3 linked regions of the Homo sapiens genome follow. The protein of the gene in region 1 interacts with the protein of each later gene in a pairwise test. Each region holds a gene or a part of one and is shown on either strand. Other genes may lie near its edges.

Evidence for each region. Proteins that work in one complex are often made in the same cells at the same time.
Region 2: the proteins of NRF1 (region 1) and HHIPL1 interact in binary tests that used the Homo sapiens proteins (3 or more experiments, as listed by UniProt).
Region 3: the proteins of NRF1 (region 1) and COL10A1 interact in binary tests that used the Homo sapiens proteins (3 or more experiments, as listed by UniProt).

The regions. Positions count from the first base shown.
Region 1 is NC_000007.14:129,607,058-129,615,405, reverse strand, and holds the start of NRF1 (nuclear respiratory factor 1), read right to left. Parts: upstream 3,687-8,348; 5' UTR 3,582-3,686; intron 1-3,581. UniProt on the Homo sapiens protein: Transcription factor that activates the expression of the EIF2S1 (EIF2-alpha) gene. Links the transcriptional modulation of key metabolic genes to cellular growth and development.
Region 2 is NC_000014.9:99,676,129-99,681,672, reverse strand, and holds the end of HHIPL1 (HHIP-like protein 1 isoform a precursor), read right to left. Parts: 3' UTR 1,104-5,544; downstream 1-1,103.
Region 3 is NC_000006.12:116,122,530-116,130,114, forward strand, and holds the start of COL10A1 (collagen alpha-1(X) chain precursor), read right to left. Parts: upstream 3,604-7,585; 5' UTR 3,524-3,603; intron 2,979-3,523; 5' UTR 2,964-2,978; coding exon 2,810-2,963; intron 1-2,809.

The DNA.
Region 1 (8,348 bases):
AATTCAGATATCCCATTTCCTAGATGATTACTGGCCCAGAAAGGGCGCATCTAAACTCTTGAGGTTAAAGTAGACATTTGTGAAATTCAACAGCCCAGGGAGTTTCCCCTCACCCTTCAATTTTTCACAGTGGCACTGTGTGAATGAATAAGCCTGCTTCAGCATGAAGCAACAGGCTTGTCTAAAGACATCTGACAGAAGCTGAATGTATACATTAACTTCCTGTTGAGGTAGGACTGTAGACTGTTTCTAAAGACTGACAGTTCATAGTTCCTCCAGAAACCAAAAAATCAGCATGCCTTTTCAAATACTCAGGGAAAAATTTTAATTTCAGTAATTACTGTTCATTGTTATTATTCTTCAACTTTACTGAATGCCTTATTCCATACAAGAAAAGGCATAAAAATTTAATCCCAGACCACAGGAGCTTAAATTTCCCTTAAAACAAGTCACTCATTCGTGATTATTTACATAAAATGCTTCTAAAGACAACCCAGAGATTTGGTTGAACCTACAGTGTGCAGGCAATGCAAATTCAGGTATTTAAATCATGGGAAGTTGGCCTTCGGTTCCCTAACAAAATTAGACAAGTGCATAATTATCGTTTAATAAAACAAAAAACCTACAATTTGGGGTCCTAACGACATACACAGGAATTCAGAAGGAAACCTGAAATCCTTTCTCCTTTAAACCTTCTATATCTGGACAAGGGCCCTCATTATCTTCTACTTCTATAGCTCCTTCTCTTAACACAGGAGCTAAATTTCCTTGAAACATGTTATGAAGCCACTGCCAGCACGGTGGCACTTGCCTATAGTCTCAGCTACTGGGGAGGCTGAGGTGGGTGCATTCCTTGAGCCCAGGAGTTCAAGGCCAGCTTAGGCAACATAGCAAGATCCCCATCTCTAACTTAAAAAAAAAAATTATATATATGTATGTACACACACACACACACACACACAAATACATATTTTTATAAGAAAATTATTGGGCCAGGCGCATTGGCTCATGCCTGTAATCCCAGCACTTTCGGAGGCCAAGCCCAGCAGATCACCTTAGGTCAGAAGTTCGAGACCAGCCTGGCCAACACGCCAAAACCCCGTCTCTACTAAAAATACAAAAATTAGCCGGGCATGGTGGCCCACGCCTGTAATCCCAGCTACTCGGGAGGCTGAGGCCGAAGAATCGCTTGAACCCAGGAGGCAGATGTTGCAGTGAGCCGAGATCGCACCACTGCACTCCAGCCTGGGTGACAGAGTGAGACTCCGTCTAAGAAAAGAAAAAGAAAAAGAGAACTATTTCCACAAAAATTGCCGACTTGGGGATAAGAACTTTTCTTTGTTACAGGAGACTATGACCACTGACTACTAAGCAAAAAGTCATTTTCCCTCCTATATGTCGAGTTTGAGGCTGTGTGAGGAAATTAAAGGACTTCAAATAAGGATGGGCCAAAAGATTAAGTAGAGTTTTTGTTTTTGTTTTTTTAGATGAAGTCTCGCTCTTGTCCCCCGGGCTGGAGTGCAATGGCGCGATCTCCATCTCGGCTCACTGCAACTTCTGCCTCCCAGGTTCAAGCGATTCTCTTGCCTCGGCAGCCCCCGCCCCCGCCCCTCCCAGCAGCTGGGATTACTGGCGCCTGCCACCACGCCCAGCTAATTTTTGTATTTTTAACAGAGATGGGCTTTCACCATGTTGGCCAGGCTGGTCTCGAACTCCTGACCTCAGGTGATCCACCCCGCCTCGGCCTCCCAAAGTGCTGGGATTACAGGTGTGAGCCACCGCACCCGGCCGTAAAGAGTTTTCTTAATCTGATTATTGTTTTTTTTGGTCATGGGCCCTGTTGAAAGCCACTAAGTCCTATCAAAAGAAAAAAAAACCCCTTGACACAAAAAAATTCTGCCCACAATTTAGGATCCAAGTTAAGAATAAATATTCTACATTGCATGTGATAATTATGTCTGCTTTCGGACTCATAAAATAAGGAAATTACACTCAGATGCACGGAGAGAACTAGTCATATTTTCACTGTCTTACGGGGTAACCTGTCAAGAACTGTCAAATACAATTTTAGGGAGTCGGGATACTAATGAATCAAACACACACACACACACAAACAGCATCTCCAAGACTCCAGCACCCCCCTTTCCCAATTACTTACTGGTCAAGCCCAAAGGAAAAATAATTTTTTAAAAGGCTAGGCTGAGATGGAATGGGAAAAAGGATCACTGTGAGCACAGATGATGTCCCGGGACAAAAGCTCTGCCCAACACTGCCCAAGCTGACAGGCTCACTCACACTACCTTTCTCCTTATGCGTCTCTCAATACGCAGTCTCTGAACACTTAAAAAAATGTGAATTTTGCTCTGACCACATAAAGAAATCAGCACGATTGACACCAGCTCTAAAATAAGCAATTAATATATTCTAATCTAATGCTTAAGAAGAATGGAGAGCAGGCAACAGCTCCTCCAACTGGTTGGAGCAGATATCACTGGAAGCCCCCCAAGTATTAAGATTTTTAAACAACTTCAAGTTCTGGTGGGCACAGCCAAATACACTGCAGAAACTTTGGGACCAGCAGCCACGACACAACAGGTGAGAGAGGCAGCAGACATCATTGCACGATGGAGTGCACAACATTCAATGACAAACCCGAAAAGGTCTGGGGATATGGGAAAATACCATGCACACGGCCATCTCAGAGCCCCTGTCTTTCCAGTGGCAAAAGGTTCTGTTCCTTCGGAGGGGCGTGCCACTCCCCCTCTCCCTCACCCAGGGGACCACCACCCCAGGCACAGGAAGAACCGCGGCCCCTCCGCGGGCACATCTCAGCTGGGGAAGAAAACACAATGTCGCTCCTTATTTCTGCGTACAAAAGGACTTTGCGCCCTCCTCCTCGAACTGCCGCCCCGGCCACCTCCTAACTTGCAAGAAGGTGGGCAACGCGCCATATTCCAGCGTCCCCCAGTCTACCTGGGTAACAAGCCCACGCCACCCCGGCAGGAGGGAAGCTTCGGAGGTCGCCCAAAGAGCCAGCCTCCTCTCCCGCAGGAGACAGCGGCTCCCGCGCCCCAGCCCGGCCCCACCGCGCCGCCCGCCCGCCCGCCCGCGTACGAGAGCCGGGAAGGGCCGAGGGGGCGAGCCGAGAGCCGCGGCTCCGGTCCCGCGCAGCCCGCCCACCTCCCGCTCCCGGGCCCGGCGCACTCTCCCGCGCCTCCCGCTCCCGAGCTGCGGGAAGGCCGGGCCCCGGGTTCCACGGCGGGGAGAAGGCCGCGGCCCCGAGAGCCCCAGGCGGCGGAGGAGGCCGGAACCCTGGGGCTCTCGGGAGGGCAGCGCCTCCCTCCCGAGCCCGCCAGGACGCCTGGGGCCTAGTGCGGCCTGCGCATCCTCGGGGTGGCGGTTTGGCTGGGCCGGGCCGGGGCCCCCCGCCCGAGGCGGGCCGAATCCGGCGGGGGCCCAGGCCCAGAGCCGGGGGCGGCAGGGTGCCGGCTGCGGGGCGGGCCGGCCGGCCGGCGGGCGGGCGGCGTGTTGCGGCTGCGCCGGGGCTGAAATAGCTGGAGATTGCGCGGTAGGGCACTCACCTCAGAGCGGCTGCGCTACCGTGGGCCTGCGCCGTGGAGACTGCGACCGCGCCGGCTCCTCGCAGCCTCCTGCCACCAGCGGCAATGGCGAGCGCTGCCGCTTCTGCCGCCGCCGCCGCCGCCGAGGAGGGGGAGGGGAGGGAGAGGGCACGCACGCGACGCACGGCCCGGCTTCCCCGCCCGGCCGCCGCCATGATGAGGAGGTCGGCGCGGCTGTGCTGCGGGCAGGCAGCGGAGAGGGCTCGCGGCGAGGGCTCCAGCTTACCCCGCCGCCGCGTCGCGTGCACGGAGCGCTTCAGAGGTTTGGAGGGGGCCGGAACCTCAAAAGCAACTGGATGAGCACAACGCGGACGCCCCGGAGAAGCGGCGCAAGCGGGCCCAAAATGGTTGCTGATCAGACGAGTGGCATCTCTCGCCCCCCTACCGCGGGAATTGGGACCTCCAGACTGTGCCTGGGGGATCGGCAAGTGGTTCCCCTCTGGTTTTTTCGGCGCTGCCTTCCCGGTGGTATCCTCACTCTCTCTCTTTGAAATGACCTCTGCTTTCCTATCTCTAACTCTTCCCAGATATTTGAAAGCAAGTTTTTGTACAAAGCAACATATGAATGTATTCAGCCATTCGATCGTTCGGCGAACATTTCTAGGTGTCTCGTGCTGTGCCAGATATTGTTCTGAGTGCGCTGAAGATGCACCTGTTAGCAAGACAAAGTCCTGGCTCCCACGGAGCTTATTCGAAGCAATAGGGGCCCCCAAGCAGGTGCCTGAGAAGTAGGGAGGGGTGGACAGTGGGAAAACAACCTAACGGTGGAGACACACGAGGGGTCTTTTTTTACTTTTAGAAACGGGGGTGGGTGGTCACCCTATGTTGCCTAGGCTGGTCTCGAACTCCTGGGCCCAAGCGATCCTCCCGACTCAGCCTCCCAAAGTGCTGGTATTACAGGACACCATGCCCGGCAGAGGGGTCGTTTTTGTTGTTTTTTTAGTGTCGTCAGGAGACTCCCTCCATCAGAATTACTCAGGCTGATTGTTTTGAGTCCTGGGACCCAGTTGGTATCCAGAATCTTGGCTTGTTTGCCTAGGAACCTGCATTTTCACATCCCCATCTCCACACCCCTGGTGATTCTTATGCATATAATAATGTGAAAAGCATTGCATTGAAGAATTGCTAAAGGGTGTCAGAAAACGGATTAACAAAATCAGGAAGCTTTAATTTTCAAGATTCTATTAACCTCAAAATTCAACATATCCAAAAATTGAATGTCTTTTTCTCCAGTGTTTTCTAGGAGAGTGCCAACACTAGCCACCCAAGTGCTCAAGCCAGAAACCTGGAAATGATCCATTACTCTTTCCTCTGTCTCTGGAGTCCCCATGTTAAATTAGATGTGTTTGTTTGTGAGACAGATTCTCACTCTATTACCTAGGCTGGAGGGCAGTGGTGCAATCATTGTTCACTGCAGCCTCGACCTCTCTGGGCTCAAGGATCCTCCCACCTCAGCCTCCCCAGTAGCTGGGACTACAGGTCCCCACCACCACGCCCGGCTAATTTTTGTATTTTTAGTAGAGATGAGGTTTCATCTTGTTGGCCCGGGCTGGTCTCGAACTCCTAGGCTCAAGTGATCTGCCTGCCTTAACCTCCCAAAGTGCTGGGATTACAGCCGTGAGCCACTGCACCCAGCCCCAATTAGATTTTTAAAACTGTTGTTCCCTGTCAGTTCTTACTCTGGTTCAGGCTACTGTCATCTCTCCTAGAGACACTGCGGTAGACTCCTCTTGGTCTCCCTGCCACCGAAATTGCCCTCTCCAAATCCACTACAGCTTGAATGGTCTTTCAAGAAAGAAAATCATGTTTTTTCCCTGTTTAAGACTCTTAAAAAGATCTGATTAACACGTAGGATAAAGTCTAAAATTCTTTGAGGTGGCTACAGGGCCATTGGTGATCTCATCCCTGTTGCCATCTCTGACCTCATCTGCCACAGATATTTCTCAGGCTACACTCAAAACTGGGAAGCTCTCAGGTCATTTAAGCCTGGAAATTGTGCCACCTCACAACTGTTGCAAGGGCTGTTCCCTTTGCCCATAACTTCATTTCTCTCTACACCATCTATGCACTTACTTGAATCCTCACCTGAATAATTCTTACCATTCTTTCAGATCCCAACATTAATACCATCGCCTCCAGGCAGCATTTTTTCATCTCCCAAGATTGGGTGCATTAGACCCTTTGTCATCACACCCAGTACTCCCCACGTTTATTGAGCGCTCACGATGCGTCAGGCCCTAGTGGAAGCCTTTATGCACATTATCTTCTTTCTCATTTAATTATCAAGTAGAGCCCACAAGGTAGGTACTACCTTTTTTTTAACTTTTGAGACAGGGTCTCACTGTATCTCCCAGACTGGAATACAGTGGCGCAAACACAGCTCACTGCAGTCTCATCCTGGGCTCAAGCAATCCTCCCATCTCAGCCTCCTGAGTAGCTGGGACCACAGGCAGATGCCTGTTGCCCAGGCTGGTCTCCAACTCCTGGGCTCAAGCCGTTCTACCTTAGCCTCCTAAAGTGCAGGGATTACAGGTGTGCAACTGTGCCCGGCCTGGGTAGTTACTAATATTATCCCATTTTACAGATGAAGAAACAAGGACATATAGGGGTTACTTGCCCAAACCCAGACAATAAGCTAGATCTGAAAGTCATCAGCCTGACCTCAGAGTTGTACTTTTAACCATTATCAGGGTCTCAGGCCAGTACCCACTGATGAAACACATAAGTAACTTAGTGGGTCATTACCAACATTTCATTAAAGAAATAGAAAATGGCAGAGAACATCAAACTTAGTAAGGCTCTTGTTTCGTGAAACTTGTCAGATTCTCTAATATGATAAATACTAAATCTTACAAACATTGAAAATACAAAATTAAACAAAATATTACCAAGGTTAACACAAAAGTATGAATACTGCAGATCTGATTTATTTTACTATCCTCATCTTTAATGCAGAACCTTCTTAGGATTAAATGACATTTACCATTCTGAGCAAACTGAGGTTACTGCCCCAAACGGACTGGGCTTACCTTTGCAGGAGAACAGGGGAGGCTGTGTTTTGGCTGGAGATTTTTGGCTAAGAGTCAAGACACAGAGATTCTTCTGCTACCACTGTGAACACATCAAGTCCCTTTCACATAGATGCTGTTTCCACAAGGGTCTCCCCACACCCTTCCCTACAGATTAGATTCCCGTGATGCCTTATTTAATTCTTGTTGGATCTGTTGATTTGGTTATGAAGTAGGTGAAATTCTGGTAACCTCACCCAGGTTCCTTCCCCTCTTGATTAGATCCAGCCAGTCTGTTCGCTGGATGATTAAATTTGGCATTCATTTTTCTGTGCTTTCCCTATCTGCTACTATCCTAAAGTCATTCTAATGACCAAAAAAGGTGCCTTGAGCCAGACTGTAGAGGGTTCTAATGGCCTCCTTAGAAATTGTGTTTTTTTGTTTTTTTTTTGAGATGAGGTTTCGCTCTTGTTGCCCAGGTTGGAGTGCAATGGTGCGATCTTGGCTCACTGCAACCTCCGCCTCCCGGGTTCAAGCGATTCTCCTGCCTCAGCCTCTCAAATAGCTGGGACTACAGGCATGCGCCACCACGCCCGGCTAATTTTGTGTTTTTAGTAGAGACGGGGTTTCACCATGTTGCCCAGGCTGGTCTCGAACCCCTGACCTCAGGTGACCCACCCACCTCGGCCTCCCAAAGTGCTGGGATTACAGGCCTGAGCCACCATGCCTGCCAAGGAACTGGTTCTTAGTAGGCAATAGACAGTTGACAATTTTGAGCTAAGCACTAAGGTCATAGGAGTGTAGATTCACCAGGGAGTGAGTTGGGCTTCTGGTCTCTAGAGGGCGCTCAAGGCTTCTCCCTCCCCACCCTCTTCCTTCCCCCAAGGTGGAGGTAGGATGGTGAAGAAATTTCATCTCCCCACCACCAAACACACACAAAGGAAGAAAATCTTACTAAAATTGGAGAATATGGAATAACATTTTCTTGGGATGGAGCCCTTAAAAGATAACACGTTCAACAGAAAGTGCTGCGTCTTTCCCGTTCTTCAACATACTCTGAGTGGTAACAAGGGCTGCCCTTGCCTTTCTCAGAGGCAGCCCAGCCAGCTTGTTCTCTTTCCCTCTCCCACAAGGTAGCCAGGCCCTAAGGCTATGGCCCACAGAAAAAGTCTTAGCAAGGCCCCGGGCTTGGGGCAAAGAGGCTGTGGATTTGTCTTTCTCTCTACTTTTTCTGGTTAGTGTGCCTCTATCCCACTCGGAAGAAAAGTTCCAAGACTCAAATTTGGGCATTGATGTGGGGAGGATAGACAGAGATGACCAGAATCCAGCCTATCTTTCCTGACTTCTGCATTGTGGTTCATACCCAGCTAATAATAAAGTGTTCCTTTCCCTGGTGTGTCATTGCACATGTACTCCCCACACTCCTGATGAGTAGAGATGGCTGGCCAAGACAGGATTCAGACATTCCCACATCCCCAACCAAACATCCTCTCCATACCATCTTATTAATCAGTCTTTGAACAATTTCCTAAACTCCCTAACAGGTTGGAGATGGCTGGAAGAAATGAAAAGAAGAACGCCAACAAAGGCGATAAAGAAAAATTCAACACTGCTTGATAACTGATGAGATAGTGAAGGAGTAGGAGGGCAAAAGTCAGAAGTAATTCCAGGTGTTCAAGAACTAAATGCTGAAGAGATGTTAGTGTCGTTGACGGTCTTC
Region 2 (5,544 bases), on another chromosome or scaffold:
TTTGAGAGAAGCAGTTTATCAACTGCCTGACCATCATCTGATGGCCACTTGACATTCCTCGTTGGGGGAGGGCCCTCTCCTGCCCTGCTCATGTCTGCCTGACTACCTACTGTCACAGTTCCTTGAGGGAAGAGCCAGGTCCTGAACAGCTCCAGGCACAGCCTGGAGCCCCACAGAAAGCAGGTGTAGAGCAGCATCAGGGAGCAGTGGTCAGCGTGAACCTCTCCAAATACGGCTAAGGAGAGGAGTGGGCATACGTCTTCTCTGACACATCGGGCAGCACCAGTGATCTCTGGCTCAACATGACCATGGCTTACCCCAGGAGCAGCACTTCCAGAGCAGTTGCCGTTCCCATCTGTGAGCCAACAGTCTCCCCTCTCCCTAGGCACCAAGCCCACAGCTGTCCCATCACCACCTCATTTGATGCTCCCAGCTATCCTGTGATCAGGTAAGGGAACACAGGCTGCATACCAAGGCTCCAGGTCCCAGGGCTGAAAGCCCTTTTCCTGGGTGGGCAGCGCTGCCTGGAAGCACGTGGCCAACCACCTGCTCCTTCACTGGAGGGTCTGGAGTAAGCTATCCAATGTGGCAGCCATTGGCCACATGTGGCTTTCTGGTACTTGACATGTGGCTAGTCCAATTGAGATGTGCTATGTGTAAGATACACACCAGATATCATAGATTAATACCAAAAAAGAATGGAAAAAAAAGGTCACCAGGCACAGTGGCTCACAACTGTAATCCCAGCACTTTGGGAGGTGGAGGCAATAGATCTTTTGAGAACAGTAGCTCAAGACCAGCCTGGGCAACATAGGGAGACCACTTCTCTACAAAAAATGAAAACAAACAAACAAACAAAAAAACTGGCCAGGCATGGTGGCATATGCCTGTGGTCTCAGCTACTCAGGAGGCTGAGGTGGAGGGATCACTTGAGCCTGGGAGTTTGAGGCTGCAGTGAACAGTGATGGGACCACTGCACTCCAGCCTGGGTGACAGAGCCAGACCCTGTCTCAAAAAAAAAAAAAATTGATATTTATATATAGGTACCTGTTAAAATGATAATATTTTGAATATGTTGGGTTAAATAAAATATATTATTAAAATTAATTTTACCTGTTTTACTTTTTTAACATGGCTACAAGCAGATTTTAAATTACCTATTTGGCTCACATTATGTTTCTATTGGATAGCACCAGTATGGACAATGACTATGGCCCCTAGAACAGGAGGATTAGCATTACCCAGGAGCTTCTAGAACTGAAAATTCTCAACCAAGACTGAGTCAAAAACTCTGAGAGACAGGACCCAGCAACCTGTGTTTTAAGCAGCCCTGTAGAACTTGATTCTTCTCAAGCTTGAAACCCACTGGTGTAGATGACACCATACGAGGAGTGGTTTCCCAGCAGGAATTGTTGGGGAGATGCAGGCATAAGAGGTGGCTCTGAATTGGCTGCCTTTACATGGGTGGCCTGGCAGGGTGGAGGTGCTGTATCCCAGGGAAGGAGAAGGATCCGGCTCTGGGAGAATGGGCCTTGGTGCAAACCTGCCTCTAAAGCCCCGGGGACCACTTACATAACACCCTAGGAATCTGTCCCCTCATCTGGAAAACAGGGACAGTGATATTGAGGGTGTCTCGTGGAGCTGTTGTCAAGATTAAATGAGCTGACACACCCGAGGTAGCTGGCATGTAATAACTGCTCAGTAAAAGCTAGTTCTCAGTGGGGGAGGAGGGGCGAGGGGACAGAAGCGCGACAAGAAGACTTGAGTTCTACATGTTAGGCTGAAGGAGCTCTTTCTTCTGCTATTGTGAGAGTTTCTTCCCATGTCATTCTGATGCTGGTCCTTCACGTGGCATGCCCCTCCTCACTCTGTCGCAGACAGTTGGCTGCTGCCAGCATGGATGCCACCAGCCTCGAACTGAGCTTTCTGTCTAGGAAGCAACCTAGAGTGTACGTGCCATGCACGTCTGCAATGCTACCTCATTTTTCATCCAGTAATCCTTCTGGTGACCTCTATTTTGCAATGAGACTCAGAGAGGCACAGAGCCAGGACTGGAACCCAGTTTCCAGCTTCCTTGAACCTCCCAAACATTTCTAAGGTATCAACATGGTGACCCCTAGGCTCAGTCTAGGGCCTGGGATGTTGTGACCTCTGACTGATGTCTTGAACACAGTCCTGGACACTGGGCCACCCCTGCAGCATTGACCCTGAGGCTCCAGCACTAAGCTGTGTGGCACTGGGCAGGGCAGCCCCTCTCTGAGAATCTGATCCTGGCTATTGACTAGAGGTTGGATTAGAGGGGGTGAGGGTGAAGGCTGTGCCCCCATCCTCAGAGGCCCTGGAGGACTTTAAGGCAAGATCGGAGTCCCTGGGGACAGAGTCACATGTGAATGCTCCCTCAGCGGCCAGCTGTAGGTGGTGGAGTGAAAGAAGCACTGGACAGGCAGCCAGCTCTGCCCTTCTCTGAACTTGTGTCCCAGTGGGGTGGGGCTGGCTTTCAATGCCCTTGAGGTGGCCCAGCAGGAAGGCCCACAGCAGGGTCCCAGAGCTGGACTACCTGGGCTCAAATTCAAATTTTGGCTATGTGACATTTGGTAAGTGACAAATGCCCTGGAACTCGGCTTCCACGTGAGTAAATGTGCATTAATATGAGGATTACATGAGTGAATGGTATGTTAAACTTTCAGAGCAGTGCTTGGCATGTAGTAAGCGCTCAGCAGAGGTCAGCTGTTGTAGAAAGTAAAAGTTCCTCTTGAAAGTTTCCCTTCTTGTTAAAGAATAAATCGTAAGTGTTAGAAATAATGGTTTCTTTTAAAGACGAACTTCCTTCAAACCTCCTTGCTTTATGCTAATAACTCTTTGTCAAGCCCTATTCTATGTAACTGTTAGACGTGCTCACAGGCACATAGTACGTTCTATGTCCTTATACTTTAACCAAGATATCTGTGCTGGACGTGCTCACAGGCATGTCCCAGCTCACAGCCTATACCCCTTCCTTATTTGGGAATATTATTACTTTTCTAAGTCCTTTCGTAAGCAACTTCCTCTTTTCCTTTATCCTTCCATTACTTTTACCTATTTAGAAAAATTTTAAACAGCCAATCGGGTTTTAGTTTAGATTGTGCGGTCTGGCTTCTGCCAATGGACATAGGACACAGTAGCAGGGACAAACTGCATAAGGGCTAACAATTGCTTCCCTCCTTTGTTCAGGTGTCCTCTCACTATTGTTCCATCTGCGATGAGCACCCTTTCTGCAGAAAGTAAAATTGCCTTGCTGAAAGAATTAAATTTATGTTTTAGTGCTATTTCTTTCCAGCATCGGGGAACAAGTATTTACATATAACAGCTGTCCACTCTTATTACTACCTAGGGCAGAGGTCTCCAAACCCTGGGCCACGGACCAGTACTGATGGGTGGCCTGTTAGGAACCGGGCCACACAGCAGGAGGTGAGTGGCAGTGGGGCAGGGTAGTGTGGGGAGCAAGCATTCCCACCTGAGCTCTGCCTCCTGCCAGATCAGCAGTGGCATTAGATCCGCATAGGAACATGAAACCTACTATGAACTGTGCATGCGAGGGATCTAGGCTGTGAACTCCTTATGAGAATCTAATGCCTGATGATCTGAGGTGGGACATTTCATCCCAAAACCATCCCCCCAACCCCCATCCATGGAAAAATTGTCTTACATGAAACCAGTCCATGATGCCAAAAAGGTTGGGGACCACTGACCTGGGGACTGTGGAGTGAGTCCCCAGGAGGCAGGCTGCAGCCTAGCCCAGGCCTGGTTTGGGGCCTGAGAGGTGATGAGTTGGAGGCTGGGGAGGAAGAGCGCCTGGCCTGGAAGACTGAAGGCCAAAGCCCGAACTGCCCAGAGAAGTACTGGAGGGCCTGAGGCCGCACCCAGAGCTCCCTTTGCCAACCCTCCTAATCCAGCTCTGAGCAAAACAGCTTCTGGGGCCAGGCAAGCAGGGCCCTGGCTCGGCTGCATTCTTGAGGGCCTCAAGGCTTGCTGCACCTTCCCTGGCTCCAGTCTCAGCGTGGCCTCATCTGGCAACAGGCCTGGGACACTCAGCCTCCCTGAGCTCACTTCCTCATCTGCACAGTGAGGAATTCGGCTGGGATGGTCATTAACGGCCTGCTATCTCCTAACACGCCCGGCGTCAGAGCTCAGAACTCCCCTGCATCCCAGGAAGATGCCCACTCAACCTCCCCTGGGCCACTGGAGGCCCGAGAGGAGCATGAGGCCAGCAGCGGGGGCACCTGCCAGGCAAGAGGAGCCCCCAGGGATCTCCATCAGCTGCTTCCCAGCCAGGCTGGCACTCCCACACCAGGCAGGAGCCCCAGCACACCGCTCTCTGCAGGCATAGTGTAGCTGGGGAGGGCAGTGGTTAGGGTGCGGGGACTCTAAACTAAGCTGCTGTATTCAAACTTGACTTCTCCCTTCCCTGGCTTGGTGCCCTAAGATATCTAACCTCTGTGTGCCTCAGTTTCCCATTCTGTAAAGCACAGAGTATGAGGAGTCCAAGACAGTGACCTAAAGCTTTCTGCTGCAGCCCAGGATCCTATACTAGTGGCTAGGAGACCCTATACTAGCAGCTAGGAGACCCTGCCAGACTCATGCCTGCCCCAAGGCCTGCCCAGCCACCCCTGGTGCCAGCTCCCAGAACTTGGCACAGCATCACCCCCTCCCAAAGCCCCCCCATAGGTTGGGTTTGGGTGCCCCACCCAGACCTCTTCCAACCCCCGACATGGGCCACATCCTGTCTTCACTGCCTGGTGACTCATCTGCTTACCCACCCCCCACCCGTGCTCCCATCCGAGGCTGAGCGCAGTCATACTAAGTGCCCCTCTGCGGCCTGGCACAGAGCCAGGGCCGAGCATCCCTGGAGTGAAGGAGCTTCCACCTGTGATGCAGGTGGGAAGCGGGAGGCCTCACCCCTTTCTCCTGGTTCCCACCCCGGCTCCCACACAGGTGCAGGTCAGAGAGGAGGCAGGAAAGTGGTGTGTAAACAGCCACATTATTGGCATAGCCCTGGGTGAAAAAGTGTCAGTAGTTTCACTGGACCCCCAGCCTGGTCAGCCCCGAGGTAGGGCTGGAGGAATCAGGTCTCCTGGGTTTACACTGAGCAGGGATGGGGATGGAAAGGACAGAGGTGGCCCCAGGGCCCAAACACAGCTTTGAAAGTAGTGGAGGCCCACCGACTCACTGGAGGGCCAGGGTGAAAGCTCTGCCCAGCTAGTGTGGGTGGCTTCTGCCCCAAGAGCAAGAGAGAATCAGGCCTCAGGGTTGGAGGAGGCTGGTCCCATCCCAGGAGCACCCACAAGGACTGAGTATGCTGCTGAGTGGCTTCTCCAGCATACGGCCTTGGAGGTCATCCAGTCCTCACAGCCATCCTCCCTGAGCAGGTGCTGGCTCCTCCACGCAGCCTGCCCCTCCAGTGGGGCCCCAGGCCTGCAGCTCACCCTGCTCCCACCTTCCAGAAGGCTTTCCCTTCCCCACTGGATGCCTTCCGGTTCTCTCCAGCGCCTCTGACTGCCAGGGGGT
Region 3 (7,585 bases), on another chromosome or scaffold:
AATTAGACATAATAGGTGAGGTACATAAAATAGTATTAAAGTTCTTACCTAAATACAAATATATAGTGTTTGATTTCATAGAGCTGTGAGTTCACTTGACCTGATAAACTAAACTTAAACTAAAAATCATAGTGCCTGTGATGTGAAAAATGCGGCTGGGCCACAAGTATGGGGAAAGCACAGGGTACAGATGTTTCTGAGATTTGGAAAACATTTGGTGTATATAAATGCAGAGCGAATCATTAAAATAGATATGCCGAAATAGGAAAATAATTGTTTCAGATTTAGATTTTTTTTTACTAATTAGAGTTATATTTCAATTTGAAAACATTGATTAATATAAATACATAGAGCTTTCCCCATGGATTTTCAGAAAATGACATCAGGAAAAAGACTGTGAGAAAAATTTATGTAAAAGATTTCCGTATATTAAATATTTCATTGATTGTAGTGTACATACATGATTATATTATGTATAAGTGGATATTGATATATTGCAAATAGAGGAATAAATAAGGAATTTTTTAATGGGTTGGAGGAATAAAATAGTGGATTTTTTAAAATGCCAACTATGTTAGATTGAGCTTTGCTTTAGAATCTGATTATAAGGGTCATGTTCACACTAAAAATAATTGTCTTAGTCTGATTGGAAATCTGTTTTACTATTAAAAAGGAGAAACAAGTCAATGGAAATGAGTGCATTGGGCGTCATCCGAGACTGGAACTCCAGTGACAGGGCGAACTTTGTCACTTGGAATGTTGTCCTAATGGGTCTCAACTTCTCAGTGCGAGAAAGAATTTGGCTTCTATTGAATGCTTGGGGGACAGCCCCTGTTTGTAGGTTGTCATCTGAAAAAATTTTCTTCATTCAAGATTAGGGTGGCACAATCCTCAAGGTAAAACGACTACTTCCTTCTATTAAGTTTTTTAAATGCCACAAACTGAAATCGTGATTGGTTGTGTCAGAATGTGGCACGTGCATCTGCCCACCAGCTGTGGAATCCTCTGCAGCATAATTTAGTATGTTTTGACAGAACTCTTTTTTAACCTGTGTTGGATGGATATGCCTAGGAATTATGTAATAACTCTTTGAATTCCTGTTTCAACTTAATGTCTTACTTGTATAGACTGTGGGCTTTTGTGTTTGTTATGGTGCATTAATGTCTGCCAATGGATGATAGTGTAGTTGAGTGTCTATCTAAAAAGAGACTAAGGTGGATTTAGTAGTTTAAATACAGCTTCTGAACTTTTCATTTGTTAAGATATTTTCATTTGTTCTGCAAAAGTAGCCAAGATAATGGTGTATATTAAGAGAAGATCAAAGTATTTTTAACCTTCTAAAATAGTGCATTTTCTTTTTAATTCAAGACTTTGTTATGCTCTTATTAAGGTGTTAAAAAGTCTGATTTTTGTGATCATGGAAACTATTGAATCCAGTGCTGTTTGTCATAGCATTTCAAATTGTGTTTGTTGCTTCAAGTAAAGCGGAAGGTTGCTTTGTCTTTTATTTTTTTCTTTACTAGCCTTTAAATTTTAAAATTTTTATTTATATTTTGAGACATTCAAAAGTATCTGTTGTATACCTGTGCATTTATTTTCAAATATTAAGTTTCCTTTTGTGAAATATTTTAAATTCCATCTTTCTTCTTAAAAAGACAATTCTATAAGTTTCATTGCTCAAAATGGTTGTTCCCAAAAGCATAATATTTAAACTTTATAACAAATATCCTTAGCTTTATTTACAGTATAAAATATATAATTAAAAAATTATGGAAAGGGAGTTTGAAGCCTACAGTCAGTTTATATTATTCTGTAGATATTTTATAGGCGGTCGTGTCAGTTGCTGTTAAATAAAATTAGTGAATATGAGGCCTAGAAGTTGCCCTCCTTTGAGAACCTTAGTGCTTTACATATATTATCTCAGTAATCTTCAAAGAGTAACCAAGAAAACTGGACAGGTAAGCAACAGATTCAAGAAGAAAGTTAACTTATTGAAGGCTATATTAGTAGCTAAAAGTAGTAGAAATAAAACTAGGAGTAACAGAAGTAGTAGTAGAAGTAATAGCAACACTTAAAGCACTTTACAGGTATTAATTCATTTAAACTTCGCAGCAGCCCTTGAGATAGCTGCTCCTTATTTTACAAATGAGGAAACTAAGGCATGGGAGGACAAGTAACTTACCTCAGGTCACACAGCTTATGCATTACAGTTAAGTCTCTGCATTTTACCGCTAAACTATATTCAAAATGTATAAGTAATTATGAGAATTGCAGTTTCATTTGCCTGCTTGGCAATTCTCATAATTACATTTGTTCATTGTTGGGGGGGAGGCCATCAGATTTTTTTGATAAGACTCGGTTTTATATCTGTTTGTGGGCTAGTTGAATTAGTTTTAAAAGTAAATGTTTAATATTTAGCTAAATAAACCAGCTACCTTCTTTATACAATTGGCAGTTATTTTTAGCTTAAAATTTTTAAACTTGATTAGTTTTGATTAGATCAAGATTTCTGGATTACATGCAGTTATTTGTGCAAAAGCAGCATCTGAGAAAAAAATTTGTACACACAAAAGTTCTGATTTTTTGCAGGTATATCTTTCAACTATATTTTCAAGTATATCCTTTCTACTACACTTATTGGATATTCTTGTTCTACTTTTTTCACAGATCACTTTGTTGTAATAATTTGGGCTAATTCAGAAGTTGGAAAGTAACACCAAAGTTAAATGCATTTTGTTAAAGAGATTATTAAGATTATAGAAAGCAACAAGCAACTTGTTAATAGAACAAAATATACAATTCAATTTACCTTTACTCTTTATGGTGTAGGGAATGAAGAACTGTGTCTTGGTGTTGGGTAGTGGGCCTTTTATGCCTGTGGGCATTTGGTATCGTTCAGCGTAAAACACTCCATGAACCAAGTTCAAGGATACTAGCAGCAAAAAGGGTATTTGTGGCAGCATATTCTCAGATGGATTCTGAAAAACAGAAAAGAATAACTTTATACAGCATTGTTATTAACCTATTTTTTTATTCTCATGTTTCACAGATGAGTTCTTTATACAGTTATCTACTTTTTTAACCTATCCTATATATTTTTAATATGTGCCATAAATAAATGAGAGATCATTTTTTAGTTATGTGAATATATGTCTTAGTTATTTTTGGAAGCTATACTCAGGTAATCAAGTGAAAATAAAATGATTTACCTAAAGGAAAAGAAACAGAAATTAGGATTGGATGTCTGTATTAAATAATCTAGGATCTTTGACATAGCCTGAAATATCTAATAGTTTCAAAATACACTGAAATTCGGATTAGGGCAAATTTTTACAATATGGTTTTATTGGGACTATCATCCACAGACTGATGCAAAAAGAACTTTTGGAGTGCATTTTAGTAGAAACCCATTTTTTAAATCACTTTAATACTTCTAATACTTGAGAAAACTCAAGTATTTAAATCTTTAAAGTTTCTTTCCAAGCAAGTTAACATGGAAGTCCACCAGTAAGCGTACGCTTACCTGCGTGCTGGGAGTTCCTGGAGATGGTGCCTTGGCAGCTTTCTGAAGCTTCCTCTGCCCAGATGAGCAGTGCAGAAGGTGCCTCTCAAGAGCTGTTCAGTGGTATTTATACTGTTTTTCCCTTACTACATGAGGTTACCCTGAGCTTAAGCTCCTCCCCTCAAAGTTGGTAAGCACTAATTATGGTGGAAAGTTCTATTGGGTAGGCACACAAGATCGGGCTGGGCTCTCCTTTTCCTTGTTTTCTTATTTAAAAATAAACCCATTGTCTTAAATATATATTAATAGTTTTAACCAAGGACCGTCTTTGTCTGTGATTCTATTTTATTAATTAATACTCTAGTGTTCAGGCTGGTTCACGGTGGAATGATGATACCCCCTTTTTATTTTTGAAAAGCACATTCTTATGTTAATTGGTTGATATTATATAATATGTGGTAGTACATAAAAGCGGATAAAATTCCTTGAAGGGGGTACTGGATTTAGACCATCATCTAAATTATTGAGTTATTACATAAAGTTATCAATGTGTCTATTAATATTCATAAATTTTTGTGAAAATAGCTGACCCCAATTCTTAATTACTTTTAGGCTTTTAGGATTTAGATCCCTTATTCACAACACTACGCTATATTCAGTAAATGACTTCAGATTTTCTTGCTTAAATTTGGGTTTACTTTAGAGTTGCAGTAGAGTTTGCAAAAACCCCTTAATTTGATAATCTCATATTATGTTAATTTACATAAGATTGCTGTGTTTATTTCAGGAGAAAAAAATTTTCAAACTTTGCTTTCAGCTTAAAAAAAATATTATTGGCTTAACTTGCAGTTAGGAATCATCCCAATTAGAAACACTTTCCCTCAAAGGTGGAAGTAAACACTATTGTTGTCAATTTTGGTAGTTAGACTCTGTTTAACAATATTAGGAAGCCTTTAAAATCAGTTTTTAGGATCCTAAAAAATCTAATAAAGGTGGGAAGTTGAGAGTCCAAATTTTTCATCTTATTTAATTTCATCGTTTTGAATCAAAATCAAATTGACTATGCAGGTGAACTGGTTGAGGAGGACAATTCCATACACAGGCATAGACACATCATTTTTCTACCTCCACAGAATTAAAGTAGTATGGATTCAGGACTAATCAATAATTGAAATAATTGAAAGTTTGACCAGTGAATGAACTAAAGATTTGTCCTTTTTCTTTTCCCTTTCTCTCCCCTTCAAGCAATTTTCTGTATTTTAAACAAAGCCTTGTATAGCCCTTTATGGAAATGTAAATGGATAAGGCATCTCATTGCCTCTCTCCTCTTGCTTGTAAGCATTTTGTTGATTGCCATATTAAAAAAATTTACATTGTTGTATATATCTCTGTATAATACTCATAGATACATATAAAATATGTTTCTTATAGCAGTTTAGAATAACAAAATAGGAAAGTTTATAATTCATCATTTGGAAATTATATATGGAATAGCTTTTGTAATTATAATATGTACTCTGCTACATCTGTAGGAGACTACAAAAGATAAGTGAGAGAAAACACCTGCCTTTTGGCTTATGGCCCATTTGGACACAATTTTGAAAAAGTAGGTGAGGTAACTTTATGGATGCTTTTGAATGCTAGGTTGAATTTGTTTTGAAAGGAATTATTAAAATATATATTTTAATATTTTGTGTGTATATATGGTGATACACATGCACACACATACTGCTATTTGCTTATAATTGAGACTGATACCCTGTTAGTTATCACTCGTGAACGTTCAGAAGACTAATTCTCAGCTCTTAATACATAGTGCTATGCCCCTGTGTATACCATTTGTTCATCTGTGGCTATTGCAACAATTTTCAGAGCCTTTCACTTTAACCTCTCTGGGTGTCTGTTTTTTATCAACACAATGAAAAGTTTGGACTAGGTGGTTTCTAAGCTCCTCCCAGTTTTAAAATTAGATTATTCCTGTGCTTGAGGTATTCTGCTGTTCTCCATGGTCAGATGGTAGACTTGGCTCCAGTTAGTACTTATTAGAGACACAAAAAAATCCATACCAGGAGGTTGTATGTCTTCTTTTAGGGATATGTAAATATATGTGGGTATTTGTCATTCTATACTCCCCTTTAGTTTTGGAAAATGTGGTGTCCTTATTGAATAAGCCTTGGACATTCAACCCTTTTTGCAAATAGTGTACTTATTTCAGCACAAGGAATCTGACTGCTGTTTGCTTTGTTAGTCACATAAGAAGCACTGTCTTGTCCAAAACAGATTGTAGAATCAGAATATTTTCTAGCCACACCCCACCCAATTGTGTATTTAAAACTATTTTTACTCTGGGTGTTTACTTGTAGCTGTTTGAAGTGACTAGTCTGTGGCTTTATGAAGGAAACCCATTCCACTCAAAACAGAGAGCCATACTCTTTAAACTCTATAACCTGAGTAATTTTTTTAAATATCAAATATGAATAATGATTTTTTTCACATCTGGCAGTTAGCTACTATTAAGCTTGCCTATTCATTTGTACATCTGTGGATCGTTAATTAATTCACCTTATGTTTCTTAAGTGCTTCTTAAGTGTTAGACATTAAGATAAATACTGGGTGAATAATATATATTCTATACCCTTAAAGTGTTTACACAGTGGTTCTCAGCCTCTTTTCCCCACTCCTGCTGTCCTGAGGGAAATGCACAATTCCTTCAGCCTTTGAGGTTCATTAAAATAGTGGTGGTTCAAAGACTATATTTTCATGAAGCTCCTCAGGTGATCATGATGGCCTCCTAAGTTAGAATGTATAGTCTGATATCAGTGTTCTATTACCACCTTGTTAATATTAGTTACATTGGTTTTTGTTATTTGTGTTCATATGCTTTTTAAACTTTTTTACAGAAAACTTGTCTTTTATAGTAGTGAGAATAGTTACAATAAATGCCTATATGCCTGTCATTCAAACTGATCTCAACTCGCTGTCACTCAATTCTCTTTTCATTCACCACTCCTTCAAATTTTGAAGTAAATCCCATATATTGTACCAATTTACCTGTGAATATTTTGGTATATTTTTCCAGAAGAGAAGGAGTCTTTTTTCTTTAAAACAATGTCATCATCGTATTAAAAAATCAGCCATTTCTTAATATCATCAAATCCTGTAGTTCACATACATATATAGACATGTATATACACAAACATATGTATACACATGTCTATATTATATAGAAACACATACATACATATCCACATATATTTTTTATTGATTGATAAATTGTTTGTTGAAATTAGGTTGATTCATATATCCCTGTTGTCATGGTTTGAATGTATCCCCCAAAGTTCATGTGTTGGAAACTTAATTCTTAATGTAACAGTTTTGGCAAGTGGGATCTTTAAGAGGTGATGAGGTTGCGAGGACTATGCCCTCATAAATGGATTAATGTTATTGTGGGAATGGGTTAGTTGTTGTGAGAGTGGGCTTTATATAGAAGCAAGCTCGGCCCCCTTTTGCTCTCTTGCACACTTTTGCCCTCTTTTGCCCTTCTGCCTTCTGCCATGCGATACTACAGCATGAACGCTCTCTCCAGATACCGGTGCCATCCTCTTGGACTTCCTAGCCTTCAGAACTGTGTGCCGAATAAAGCTCTGTTCATCATAAATTACCCCGTCTGTGGCATTCTGTTATAGTAGTGTAAAATGGACTAAACCTGTTACTCTAGGTGTCTTGTGTCACTTTTTACTCCCTTGCAGTTTATTTGTTGAAAAGCCGTGTCATCTGTCTCATGCAATTTCCTGTGATCTAGAATTTGTTGTCACTTAACTTGCTACTGTGGAGATTGGTAGTTAAATCTAGAGTTTTCATCTGATTTCAGGTTTGAGATACACACATTCACTCACACACAGATACAGCACACACAAATACATTTTTTGGCAAGAACCCTTTACAGAGAGTGGTATGATATACTTCTGTTAGGAAGCCCTTAATTGCTGGTGTCTCTTTGGTGTTACTGGACATTGGTAATTGCCTACAGTCAATATTTTATTATAGGTTATAAAATGATGATATTCTGATTTTATCATTTGT